4 linked regions of the Homo sapiens genome follow. The protein of the gene in region 1 purifies or fractionates together with the protein of each later gene. This does not show direct contact. Each region holds a gene or a part of one and is shown in the gene's direction. Other genes may lie near its edges.

What was found.
Region 2: the proteins of STX18 (region 1) and RINT1 purify together in Homo sapiens (co-immunoprecipitation; 7 studies listed by BioGRID and IntAct, with this or other methods). This does not show direct contact.
Region 3: the proteins of STX18 (region 1) and NAPA purify together in Homo sapiens (affinity purification with mass spectrometry; 4 studies listed by BioGRID and IntAct, with this or other methods). This does not show direct contact.
Region 4: the proteins of STX18 (region 1) and SCFD2 purify together in Homo sapiens (co-immunoprecipitation; 4 studies listed by BioGRID and IntAct, with this or other methods). This does not show direct contact.

What each region holds. Positions count from the first base shown.
Region 1 is NC_000004.12:4,458,549-4,462,048, reverse strand, and holds part of STX18 (syntaxin-18), read left to right. Parts: intron 1-76; exon of another isoform or gene 77-143; intron 144-2,561; coding exon 2,562-2,677; intron 2,678-3,500. UniProt on the Homo sapiens protein: Syntaxin that may be involved in targeting and fusion of Golgi-derived retrograde transport vesicles with the ER.
Region 2 is NC_000007.14:105,563,201-105,565,688, forward strand, and holds part of RINT1 (RAD50-interacting protein 1), read left to right. Parts: intron 1-532; coding exon 533-747; intron 748-1,923; exon of another isoform or gene 1,924-2,076; coding exon 2,077-2,257; exon of another isoform or gene 2,258-2,329; coding exon 2,330-2,448; intron 2,449-2,488. Other genes in the region: EFCAB10 (EF-hand calcium-binding domain-containing protein 10), read right to left, coding at 2,349-2,415. UniProt on the Homo sapiens protein: Involved in regulation of membrane traffic between the Golgi and the endoplasmic reticulum (ER); the function is proposed to depend on its association in the NRZ complex which is believed to play a role in SNARE assembly at the ER.
Region 3 is NC_000019.10:47,491,064-47,494,563, reverse strand, and holds part of NAPA (alpha-soluble NSF attachment protein), read left to right. Parts: intron 1-962; exon of another isoform or gene 963-1,070; coding exon 1,071-1,148; intron 1,149-1,389; coding exon 1,390-1,445; intron 1,446-1,518; coding exon 1,519-1,603; intron 1,604-2,444; coding exon 2,445-2,549; intron 2,550-3,500. UniProt on the Homo sapiens protein: Required for vesicular transport between the endoplasmic reticulum and the Golgi apparatus. Together with GNA12 promotes CDH5 localization to plasma membrane.
Region 4 is NC_000004.12:53,275,562-53,279,061, reverse strand, and holds part of SCFD2 (sec1 family domain-containing protein 2), read left to right. Parts: intron 1-3,500. UniProt on the Homo sapiens protein: May be involved in protein transport.

The sequences.
Region 1 (3,500 bases):
TGTTGATACTCTGCTCTTGAATTAGACACACTCAGGCATTAGTGCCACTGCGCAGCCGCAGCCCCTGGAGCACAGACAGCAGGGACAGGCCCCTTTGCAACATAGGAGAGAGAGGAACAGAGCGGAACCTCTGCTGTCTCTAAGTAGGTAAAAGAGAGGAGAGAAAGGTGTGGTGACTATATGCACACCCCATGCTTTCTGCGAGGGGGCCAGAGGGAGGAGGCTCTGGGAGGAGGCAAGGTGTCATTTGGGGAAGTTGGTTCCCACAGAAACATGAGGATTAGGGAATAAGCATTCCCCCCGGTAGCCCAGGTTCTGTCCAGGTGGAGAAAGACCACCCTTATTGTCTCTCATCAAGTTCTCCCTCCCAAAGGTGGTAGACTGCTTAAAGCCTTTCTTTTTTACTCTTCTGCCCTCCCAGTGCAATGTGCTAGCCTTGGCCTGCTCCTAGGAACATTTTATGTGGAGTATGATCATGGAATTGAAAGAATATGTGTAGAAATACTGCCTTCAGACCTATGAGGCTTTGTTAGTTTGACATAATTAGGAAGCTGTAATTTTTTCCAGAATGTAGAGCTCAGACTTTATTGACCCATTTAATTTTTTTTTAATAATGACATTTTACTAGAGCAGAACAGCATGTAACCTAGATAGCCTGTGGCTAGATCTCTGAATGATTTTAATTAAAAATAATGTCTCCACTTCTGGTAGATGGACTTTTTCCACAATATCCTGGCAACAAAACAATCTGGGAGAAAAAACTTCCTTGGTTTCTGTTGTTCTTACTAATAGAATAACCATACTGTCAATTTTCAATTTAGAAGGTTAATGTATATATATAATGTTTCCTAAAGGAACATTACCTTTTAATTAAATAATCAGTTTTATCAAATTAACCTTTAGACCTTTTCAATTTCACTGAGCTGAGTTTCCATTAAATCAAAATATAGAGTAGGAGGATGTTAATCGAATGTTCTTGGAACTAGTCATTTCTAGGTCTGTTCTGTCTGCAGGGTACATATTCACTGAGTTGGTACCTTTCTGACTCATTTGTCCCTGACCCCGTTAGCCTCTATTTCCGATGAGAAGGTTCCTAGTAGGGATGAACCTAAGGCTTTGGCCCCTCTGCTTGCCACTCTGGCTCCTCCCCAGAGGGGAGCCATTCATCTGGTGTTGGAGGTGGGCTGGGGTTGGGGAGAGGGGATCGAGCTTGCTGGCTTAGCGCCTTTGTCTCACTGTTGGGTCTTCCCTCGGACAGAGTCCATTCTCTCATGGTTGCCATCCCAAGCCTAAGTAACTAATAGAACAAGATCCTAAGGAGCATTGGAATAAGGAACTAATTCCATGTCACTCTTCAAGTTCCACTGAGAGAGGATCATCTATTCCCTAGGAGGCTGGAGGCTGTGGGATTTCTTTTTCCAACTCTTCCTTAGAAAATATGGAAGTGGGGTAGGGGCCGTGGGATAGGGGTGACTCCAAGGGAGGAGAGGATGCTTATCTGGTGATTGGGAGTGAGAAGGACTTCGTGCTCATCTTACCCCTTTCTTTTTTAGAAGGGCCTGTCCTCAGGATGGATGTATTCCCTGTTTGTTTGTGCCTTAAGTTTCCTAGAGAAGGCTTTGGGAGGGGGATGCCTACCTGTCTTGGGGTGGGGGGAAAAATCGGTTTAGGAGGAACTTACTAGGGAGCACAGTCGTAGCTGTGTATCAAGCATATTCTCCAACTCAGGCTCATTCATTGGTTCAGTTCATTCAAAAGTATTTATTACTGATTTATTAATTGATCAGCCTATTAAAAATGCTAGGCATTGCTCTTGATGATGGGGATACAGCAGTGAACAAACAGAAGTCCTTGCCTTTGTGGAACTTACGTTTTTAGAGGGGAGAGACAGGCAAGAAAAGAAATAATTACACAAAATATATGGAATGTTAGAGTGGGGTAAGTATCTTTACGGGGAAGGAAGAAGGGAAGTGGGATAGAAAATGTCAGGGAGGGGACAGTTTATAAAGAAGGATTAGGGAAGGCCTCATTAAGAGGGCAACATGGAGTAAACACCTAAAAGAAGTAAGGGATGCATTGATGCAGCTATCTGGGGAAAGAACATTCCAGAAGGAGGAGACAACCAACACATGTAAAGGTCCTGAGGTGGGAGTGTGCCTGGAATGTTTAGGGAACACCCTCCACCCTCTGATTCAGTCATTTTGTAGTGTGAGACCCTTCAGTAGCTGCGCCATTGTTCTCAAAAGCAGAGCCTACATTCTTTATAAGCCTGGCTTATGCTGTAGCCCTGACTCCACGCTCCTTCTCCCTCTCCCTCTCCCCATCTGGCTTACGTCAGTTGGGTCTATTCCGGAGGATTTTCTACCACACACCCTTCATATGTGTTCTACTATCTATCTAGATGGTTCTCTCACCTTTTCACCTGGCCTGTTCCTCCTCACCCTTCAAGTCTCAGCTTAAATGTCACCTGATCAGGGAGGCCTTTTCTTCTCTTCCCATCCCACTCAGACTATATTATGTTCTCATTTGCTGCTGCCCTTTCCTTTGCTGTCTTTTTTTAGCCATACCATGTCTGAATATGGGAGGATGACAGACACAGAACGAGACCAGATAGACCAGGATGCCCAGATATTCATGAGGACCTGTTCAGAAGCAATTCAGCAACTACGAACAGAAGGTAAAGTGCTCTGAAAGATGCAAACAAGCAACCATGAATATAGCAAGTAGTTAAACAAGATGCATATGGTGCGGCCAGTTAAAATTCCCTCTTCTTATTTCGATTTAGGTTTTAAAACGTTAAAATCTTTTCTTTCTTGATCAATGTTTTAACCAAAGCTGTTAAAAGTACTGCAAAGGCTGTATCATTCAAGTTAAACCAATGAGAGGAGGGAGATGGAAAGGACCTCTCCAAACAGAACCAAAAATATATCTAGGGGCCAGGGGCAGTGAAGACAAATTTGTGTGTGTGTGTGTGTGTGTGTGTGTGCGTGTGTGTGTGTTCTGTGTGGCAAATTGTATGTGTGTGGGTGTGTATGTGTGTATGCACATGTGTGCCTCTGTTCTGTGTGGCATTTAGTGGGATGGGAGTTGACAGCAGCCTGGGGTACTTAAGCTCTACTTGTAATATTCAAGTAAACTTTCCTATCAAACCTTCAAGGTTAGGAGGAAGGCTCTGGAGCCAGGGCTGCTTAGGTTGCACCCCAACTCCACCCGTCCGAGCCATATAGCCCTCTGCAAATCACTTAATCTCCCTGGGCCTTGTTTTTTTGTCTATGAAATGCAGACAATTAGGGAATGTATCTCTAGGGTTGTTATGAGCATTAAGTTAAATTCCTACAGCATGCTTAGAACTGTGTCTGGCACAAGAGCGCTTATTATCTCACTTTCGTTGATGTTTAATTCTCACTGAGACAATGAGATGGCTTCCCAAGTCACGCCTCTTTCTTGATTCTTTTTTAATTTGCTTAGGCATTTACAGAGTACATTAAATAGTAAGTAGA
Region 2 (2,488 bases), on another chromosome or scaffold:
ACAGGCAAATCCATTGAGACAGAAAGTCAATTAGTGGTTGCCTATGAGTTGAGGGAGTGGGGAGACGGTATTAGAGGATAACGGCTTTTTTCTTGGTGATGAAAATGTTCTAAAATTGTGATGGATATACAACTGAATATATAAAAAAATCATTGAATTATACACTATTATTAGTTTTGAGATGGAGTCTCACTTTGTCGCCCAGGCTGGAGTGCAGAGGCATGATCTCGGCTCACTGCAACTTCCACCTTCCAGGTTCAAGCTAGGATTACAGGCACATGCCACCACACCCGGCTTATTTTTGTATTTTTAGTAGAGTTGGAGTTTCACCATGTTGGCCAGGATGGTTTCGAACTCCTGACCTCAGGTGATCCACCCACCTCAGCCTCCCAAAGTGCTGGGATTACAGGCATGAGCCACCGTGCCCGGTCGAATTATACACTTTAAATGGGTGAATTGTATGACATATGAATTCTATTTCAAACTGTTAAAAAAAAAGTATGCTAATGTGTTAACATGTTTTTGCTTTCAGTTCTTTCTACAACTTCAACAGGCTGCACTGGAGGTGTTTGCAGAGAATAATACTCTGAGTAAATTGCAGCTAGGACAGCTAGCCTCTATGGAGAGCTCTGTCTTTGATGACATGATTAACCTCTTAGAACGTTTAAAGCATGATATGTTGACCCGTCAAGTAGACCACGTTTTTAGAGAAGTTAAAGATGCTGCAAAATTGTATAAAAAAGAAAGGTATGTCCTCTATGTAAGTCAGCTCTTAACACCAGTTTGGTAAAAGTTAAAGAATATGTGGTCAGATTTTCAAGGTGTCTAGATAGAACCCGGTTTGGCCTTATGTACTTTATTGTTGATGGAAATATTTCTAAAGTATGTTCTCTTGGACATTTTTTTTGAGACAGTCCTACTCTGTCACCCAGGCTGGAGTGCAGTTGCACGATCTTGGCTCATTGCAACCTCTGCCTTAGAGGTTCAAGTGACCTTCCCACCTCAGCCTCCCAAGTAGCCAGGACTACAGGCATGCACCACCACACAAGGCTAATTTTTGTATTTTTAGTAGAGATGTGGTTTCACATTTTGGGCAGGCTGATCTCCAACTCCTGACCTCAGGCAAGCCACCTGCCTCGGCCTCCCAAAGTGCTAGGATTACAGGTGTGAGCCACCACACCTGGCTGACATTCTTAATCAGAATAAACTGATTATAATTTAGTTGTTTGTAAATATATCAATAGGATAGTGTGTGATCTGGGGTTGAATAGCCTAACCTGTCTCCCATTTTGCAAAGTAAAGTGCACCTGTGGTACTCTGCATACTTTTGTTGTGGTTTATCCCACTACCATTCACTGTGAACACCTGTGTTACTTTCATCCTTGATAGCAAGCAGTATCTTTTTGTCCTAGCATAGTCCCTGCCACACAGAGTGCTTAAAATTCGTTTATTAGTCCTGTTTTTACTAAAAATTAGAGGATAATATTAGCTGATGTCTTAATTAAAATGCTAAAATCAGGCTGGGTGCAGTGGCTCACACCTGTAATCCCAGCACTTTGGGAGGCCAAGGCGGGCAGATTACTTGAGGGCAGCAATTCGAAACTAGCCTGGCCAACATGGCGAAACCCTGTCTCTACTAAAAAATTCAAAGATTAGCTGGGCGTGGTGGTGGGCACCTGTAATCCCAGCTACTTGGGAGGCTGACACGAGAATTGCTTGAACCCTGTGGCTCTAGCCTGGCCAACAGAGCGAGACTCTGTCTCAAAAAAAAAGAAAAACTACATAAATAAAATGCAAAAATTAAGTGACATTTTAAATTGTAATTGCCTTATATCAGTAATTCACATATTAAAATTTGGGGATATTTTGGATATATCCCCATATTAAAGAGTATTTGAGAGTGAAAATATAAATACAGGTACATTTATTTTCTGATAGAGCTTTTAATGTTAGGCTGTATATTTTTTCTTATCCAAAATGCCCTAGGACAGAACACTTCCTCAAATTTAAAATGATTTAAAAACTTGAAAAATAGAAACTGATGAAAATTTTTTGGTAAAAATGTGTTTTTTCCAGATGGTTGTCCTTGCCATCTCAGTCAGAGCAGGCAGTGATGTCCCTGTCCAGTTCGGCTTGCCCGTTGCTGCTGACGTTACGAGACCATTTACTTCAGTTGGAGCAGCAGCTTTGTTTCTCCTTATTTAAAATTTTCTGGCAAATGCTTGTAGAGAAGCTGGATGTATACATCTACCAAGAAGTAAGTAAGAATAGACTGTTTTTGGGCTGTGATAATAAAGACAACTGTTATATGAATTATTCTTTGTTTCAGATAATTCTTGCTAATCACTTCAATGAAGGAGGAGCAGCCCAGCTGCAGTTTGATATGACTCGGAATCTTTTCCCTTTGTTTTCTCACTATTGCAAGAGACCAGAAAATTATTTTAAACAGTAAGCTCAACATTTAACAATTAATATTAATGTATCAAAT
Region 3 (3,500 bases), on another chromosome or scaffold:
GTTTCACCATGTTGGCCAGGCTGGTCTCAGACTCCTGACCTCAAGTGATCCACCTGCCTTGGCCTCCCAAAGTGCTGGGATTGCAGGCATGAGCCACCGTGCCTGGCCAGCTCCTTTTTGCCTCTCCGCTTGCCCTGTCTGTCTCAGCCCTCCAACCCCAGGCAGGGACACGAGCCCTACCCCTTGCGTTCAGGGCAGTGCTGCAGGGATGACTGTGATTAGAACAATAATAGCAGCTGCCATTTATTAGGCCAGACACTGCAGGGTGGTTTAATCCACAGCCCTGTGAGGTTGGCATTATTGTCATCCCCGTTCCTTAGTGGAGGAGAGGGGCTCAGACAAGTGACATGATTTGCCCAGGGACATGTGGCTACAAGCAGGAGTCACTGAGACCCGAAACAAGGTCTGGCTGAGCCCAGGGCCTTGCCCTTTCCTACTGCCCTCAGCAAGGGGGTGGCGTTGGACCAGCCCCTGGTGCAGAGCAGTTAGGCAAGCGCCTGGACACTGGGTGGAGGCGGATGGAAGGTGCGAGGCCCCTTGGAACCTGAGGCCTCCCTGGGGAGCTCTGGGTGTGCCTGGGGGAGGCTGACAGATAGGTGTTGGCCTGGGGGCAGAGCTGGTACTCTTGGGCAGAGGTCTCAAGCCCTCCCTCCCATCCTGGTTTCTCCAGAGCCCTTTGCCAAGTGGCTCTGGACTGGTCCTTCCGCCTCTCTGGCTGTTATCAGAGGCTTCCTAAGGGCCAGGGCCTTGGCCAAGTGCTCGTGCTCACATTCTCTCTGGTGTCACACCATCTGTGCCCTCGTGGATGGGATGGAATTAGGCTAAGGCCCTGGAGTGGCTTGTCCAACATCACCCGCTCAGCCCAGCACGCATAGCCAGGCCTCTAGTGCTGGGGCCCTCCCTTCTCACTCCTGTGTTCCCCCACCTCTCGATCTTCTTCACACCTCAGGTCTTCTTCATACCTCCTCACAGGCGTGGCTGAGGGGTGGGAACTTGAAGGGTCATAGGTCAGCAGGCAGGCACGCAGGAGGTCATGAGTCGCAGGCAGCCCCTTCCTGTGTCCCCTCCAGGGCCGATTCACGATTGCGGCCAAGCACCACATCTCCATTGCTGAGATCTATGAGACAGAGTTGGTGGACATCGAGAAGGTGAGTGGCAGCAGGGCCCTGCATGGGCTGGCAGCCAGGACCAGTGCTGCTCTCTCTTCTTCCCACCAGGGGAGTCCTCTGGTGTCTGAGTGCCGAGAAGGGGGCATGGGGCGCCGGCAGAGCTTGGAGAATGGGGTCTGGCTGTGTCCCAGGCAGGCAGGGCGGAGGGTGTGGAAGCTTCACGGAGGCCTCCTCTCCCTTCCCTGCCCTCCCCTGGAACCCATCCCCCGTGTCTCCCCAGGCCATTGCCCACTACGAGCAGTCTGCAGACTACTACAAAGGCGAGGAGTCCAACAGGTAGCCCCCTTCCTGCCTGCCCCAGCCCCGCAGGGACCGCCACCACTTCCCCTCACTACTCCTCCCCACACAGCTCAGCCAACAAGTGTCTGCTGAAGGTGGCTGGTTACGCTGCGCTGCTGGAGCAGTATCAGAAGGCCATTGACATCTACGAACAGGTGGGGACAGGTGGGGATGGCGGCTTCCACCCTGCCCCCTCTCAGGGCCTGTGCCTCCTCCTAAGCCCCGGCACCTTGTTCTGGAACCACCCCTCCCCCGGCTCACCCTCTGCCTCTCCCCCGACATCCCTTGCCATGTCATCCCCCCACCCTGTCTTCAGCCTGGCTGAATGTTCTCCACCTACGACTCCATGCCGTGCCAGCACCGTCTCTCTCCCTGGCTGTGCCCCTCCCACACCCCTCGCAGAGCTTCCTGGAGGGGCCCAGAGTGAGGCTGGCTAAAGAACCCAGAGGGAGGGAATGGGAAGAAGTGCCAAGAGGCCCAGGGTGGCCGTGGGCACCCCACCCCATGGCCCGATGGTCCTCATCCACAGTGGGAGGGAGGGAGTGTCACATGGGGTCCCCCCAGCGTGCACGGAGCCCTGGGTGATGGCCGAGAAAAAGGCAGGCAGCTGGCCCCCTGGGAGAGAGGGGCGGGCGCCGCCTCTCATGTTCCCACCGCCTGCCGCCGCTCTGCCCACCGCCATGCCAGCCTCCCGTTGGTCCTGACAGCCAGGCTGCCTCCTTCCCACTGTCTCAGGCTCTCAGAAGGCCCACGAACACCTGGCTACAGCCTCCACCCCCACCCAGCCACCATCACACCCTGATCTTGGTCGCTCACGCACTGGCCGCTGACCTCTCCAAGCTGGTCCCTGGCTCCCTGCCCTTGGGGTCCTGGGTTAACAGGGCCTCACCTCGGGACATGAACCAGCTCCCAGCTGGCCCCCCAGTGCCTGGCAGTGGCTCTGGCCCTCTGGCTGCTTGCCCTGAGCTCACCAGTGCCACTTCTCCATGGCTACAGGTGGGGACCAATGCCATGGACAGCCCCCTCCTCAAGTACAGCGCCAAAGACTACTTCTTCAAGGCGGCCCTCTGCCACTTCTGCATCGACATGCTCAACGCCAAGGTAGCACACCCCACGCCCGCAGGACCACCGCACCAGGCCACCATGTGCTTATCTCCAGGCCAGGTCCCGTTGCCCCCGAAGAGGGACGTGCTCCTCCCTCACGTCTGGCCCCTGCCAGCCAGCCTTTGGATGAGAAGTGTGGTTCTCACAGCTGTGTTTCTGTGCTGGCATCACCTGCCCACCCAGCCCTGGAGGCTTTTGCGGGTCCAGCTCCTGCCTCACTTAGTGCTCTTTCCTTCATGGGTGCACTTTTTGAATCCTCACTGCACCCCATTAAAGTCAGCACCATTGTCACCGCGTCTTATGGGTGAAGATGGTGAGGCTGGGACGAGAGTCCCTTGTTTGAGGCCACATGACTAGGGACCTGCAGCCCCAGTGTTCCAGATCTTTGTGACTCCTGCTGTCGTGGCTTTAGCTGTAGCTCACACATGCCCACCTATTTTCAGGACACTTGGCAAAAGAGGGGCCAAAGAGGGCAGTGGGAGGGGGCGTGGCCAGCGGGAAGGAGCTGGAGGGTTGGCGCTAGATTTTGCTTGGCCGGAGTTTTTTTACCATTGCCTGGCAGAAGCACGGAGTCCAGGATTTCCTGGTGTCCCTGGCTCACGGCCTGGGGTGGTGGCCCCACACACCCCACACACACACACCCCACAGAGCCCTGCCCTGCTGTGGGCACCGGTGGTGGGCAAAAGCTTGGGCTTTGTCAGACCAGGTTCCCATTCCCACCCCATGTCTCACCGTGCCCTGGGCAGGTCACTGCCCCTCTCTGGATCTGTTTCCTCACTTTGAAAAGGGGGCTCACCGTCATTTGACCCTCTCAGGGTCCTCAAGAAGCACCAGCCCCAGGCCTGGCATGGAGGATGTGCTCATTTGTCCCCTGCCCCAGCTGAGCCAGGTGGGAGGAGGCAGTGGGTGCCTATCTGGGGAACCTTCCCCCTCCACCCACCTCTCCCT
Region 4 (3,500 bases), about 49 Mb from region 1:
AACACTTGTCTAGTTGCTTGCTGTTTTAGTTTATATAAACTAAGAAATTTTACTTCAGTGGTTAGTCTTACTGCAGCATTTTTGATGGTCAATTAGTTGATTTCCATTTGCTTTTGGTAAGGTTATGGTTAAATTTAAAAATTTTAAAAATGTCACTGGCCTTTTTTTTTTTTTTTTAGAGCATCTGTGTGAATTACTTTTTAACTTAAATTCCAGTTAGCCTCTTAGGGATTTTTAGGAAAAAAAAATCTGCTGTCGTGATTTATACCTAACGAAGGAGTAGTGTCATGAGTGTGTAAAAAACGACATACAAAGGGGAATAGAACAGAGTAGAGAAGGTGAATAACTACTAAATCTGCAAGGAACACAAGGTAGTGTGGTGTTGATATTTTCTGTTAGGAGATATACCCATTTGTTCCTTTAGATCATATGCCTTATATGAGAAGGTGACGTTACATAAATATGGTAGCTGAGTCTGGGTCTCAGCTAGGAAATGCTGATTGGATAAAAAATTTGACTTTTTTTTTTTTTTTGAGATGGAGTCTCACTCTGTCGCCCAGGCTGGAGTGCAGTGGCACGATCTTGGCCACTTCCCAGGTTCAAGTGATTCTCCTGCCTCAGCTGCCTGAGTAGCTGGGACTATAGGTGAGCACTACCATGCCCAGCTAATTTTTCTCTTTCTTTTTTCTTTTTTTTTTTTTTTAAGATGGAGTCTCTCTCTGCCTCCCAGGCTGGAATGCAGTGGTGCAATCTCGGCTTACTCCACCTCCCGGGTTCAAGTGATTCTCCTGCCTCAGCTCCTGAGTAGCTGGAACTACAGGTGCCCACCACCACTCCCGGCTAATATTTGAATTTTTAGTAGAGACAGGGTTTCACCTTGTTGGTCAGGCTGGTCTCCAACCCTGGACCTCGAGTGATCCACCCACCTCGGCCTCCAAAAGTGCTGGGATTACAGGCGTGAGCCACTGCGCCTGGCGAGGACTGTTTTTTTTTTTTTTGTTTTTTGTTTTGAGACGGAGTCTCGTTCTGTCCCTGGGCTAGAGTGCAGTGGCCGGATCTCCGCTTACTGCAAGCTCCGCCTCCCGGGTTCACGCCATTCTCCTGCCTCAGCCTCCCGAGTAGCTGGGACTACAGGCGCCCACCACCAAGCCCAACTAATTTTTTTGCATTTTTAGTAGGGACGGGGTTTCACCGTGTTAGCCAGGATGGTCTCCATCTCCTGACCTCGTGATCTGCCCGCCTCGGCCTCCCAAAGAGCTGCGATTACAGGCGTGAGCCACCGCGCCGAGCCTGGACTGTTTTTTAATCAAAGACACTTTTATCTTTAAAATGAACATACGGTTATTACAATAGAAATCTGAGCAGATCCTCTGATGGCTTCCTCTGGTGATTCCCGTTTCCTGGAGTCTCTCTAAAACATAGTTATAGAAGAAATGAATTGTATATATTTTGAATCTATTTAATTCCTCTTCTTTCAGTTGAGGAGATGGGGTTGGAGAGGTAGGCAGTTTTCATATCATGTAGAGCCTTTCACACCTTCAAGACATTTTGTATTTTTCTTTGGCAGTACTTACCACTATCATGATTAAGTAATTATTTGTATGATCATTAAATGAATGTTTGTCTTGATAGACTAAGTTCTATGTGTTTAGGAGCCACACTGCCATCACCTGCAGTACAGTGTTTATATAAATAAATGGAGCTCATGGCAATCTTAAGTTTTGAAACCATTTTGTGTGAAAATTTGTTCTTACATATTTAATATAATAGATGTCAGAGAATATCATTTCTTAAAAATGTTAATCATTTGCACAAAAGGTCCCTATCCCTTTAGAGAGAATGACACGTAAGAGGCTGAATTAATTAGGAGATCATCAAGGAGTTGTTTTCTTTATTTGTTGGCTACAAGCATAGGGGTTTTTGTCTGGATTTGTTCACAGGTTTATTCCTAGAAACAGGAATAGTGCCTGTTACAGAAATATATGTTGAATCAATGAATCAATAAAAGTGAATGACACTCACAACTCAGTAATAAGAAAACAAACAACCTAATTAAAAAATGAGCAAAAGATTTGACCAGACACTTCACCAAAACAGATATAGGATGGCAAAAGACACACATGAAAAGGTGGTTAACATCATTAGTCATTAGGAAAATGAAATTTTAAACCACAATGAGATACTGCTACACATCTGTTAGAATCATTAAAATAAAAATAGCTGACAAAACCAAGTGTTGGTGAAGTTGTAAGGCAACTAAAACTCTCATATGTTGCTGGTGGTACAGCCCACTTTGGAAATCAGTTTGCCAATTTCTTATAAAATTAAACATGTGCTTAAACTAAATACTGCATGTTCTCACTTATAAGTGGGAGCTAAATGATGGGAACACATGGACACTAAGAGGGGAACAGCTGATATTGGAGCTTACTTGAGGGTGGAGGGTGGGAGGAAGGAGAGGATCAGAAAAAATAACTATTGGGTACTAGGCATAGTACCTCGGTGACAAAACATTCTGTACCACAAATCCCCATGACACGAGTTTACCTATATAACAAACCAGTACATGTACCTCTGAACCTAAAATAAAAATTAAAAAAAAATAACTAAATGAAACTATAAATGTATATGTGGGTCAGTACCAAGAAGTTTTTTTCACAAACCCCTAAGTATCTGATTTCCACTCAAGTCTTTTAAACTTGTTTGATGTTGCTGAGTAGCAGAGGTCTTTTATTTTCCACTTTTTAACGTACCTAAAAAGCATGAACCCTGCATTTCAATGGACTGTATTGTACGCTTTTTTGCTATAAAACTTTTTCATCAAACACAATTACATTGTTCAATTTTGTTGTAAACTTAACATAAGATGCACTGTTGATATGCTTTCTGATATGTTTGATAAGAGTGATAAAATAAAGCTTAAGAATTAAAAAAAAATTAAAAGTAAGCATATACTTAACATCTGTCCTAGAAACCTGCTCCTAGAAATTTGCCTAAAGGAAAATGAAACATATGTATACACACACACACACACACACACACAAAGACCTGTACACAGATGTTTGTGAAGGCTTTATTCATAATTTCTAAAAAATTGAAAGCAACCCAAATACTCATTAACTAGTGAATAGATAAATAAATGGCTAAATAAACTATGATACATCCACACAATGAAATATCACTCAGCAAGAAAAAAGAGCAAACTACTAATACAAGCAGCAACGTGGATGAATCTCAGATACATTATGGTTCAGTGAAAGAAGCCAGACTCAAATGGCTACATACTATGTGATTCCATTTATGTGACACTCTAGAAAGACAAAACTGTGAGATGGAAATCAGATAAACACGGATAAGGGTTCATCAACCAACAGGGCTGGAACTAGGGAAAGTGAATGGACTACCAAGAAGGGGAGCTGTTTGGAATGATGGGAATGTTCTGTATTTTGACTGTGACAGTGGTTATCCAACCATATCCATTTGTCAAAATTCATAGAACT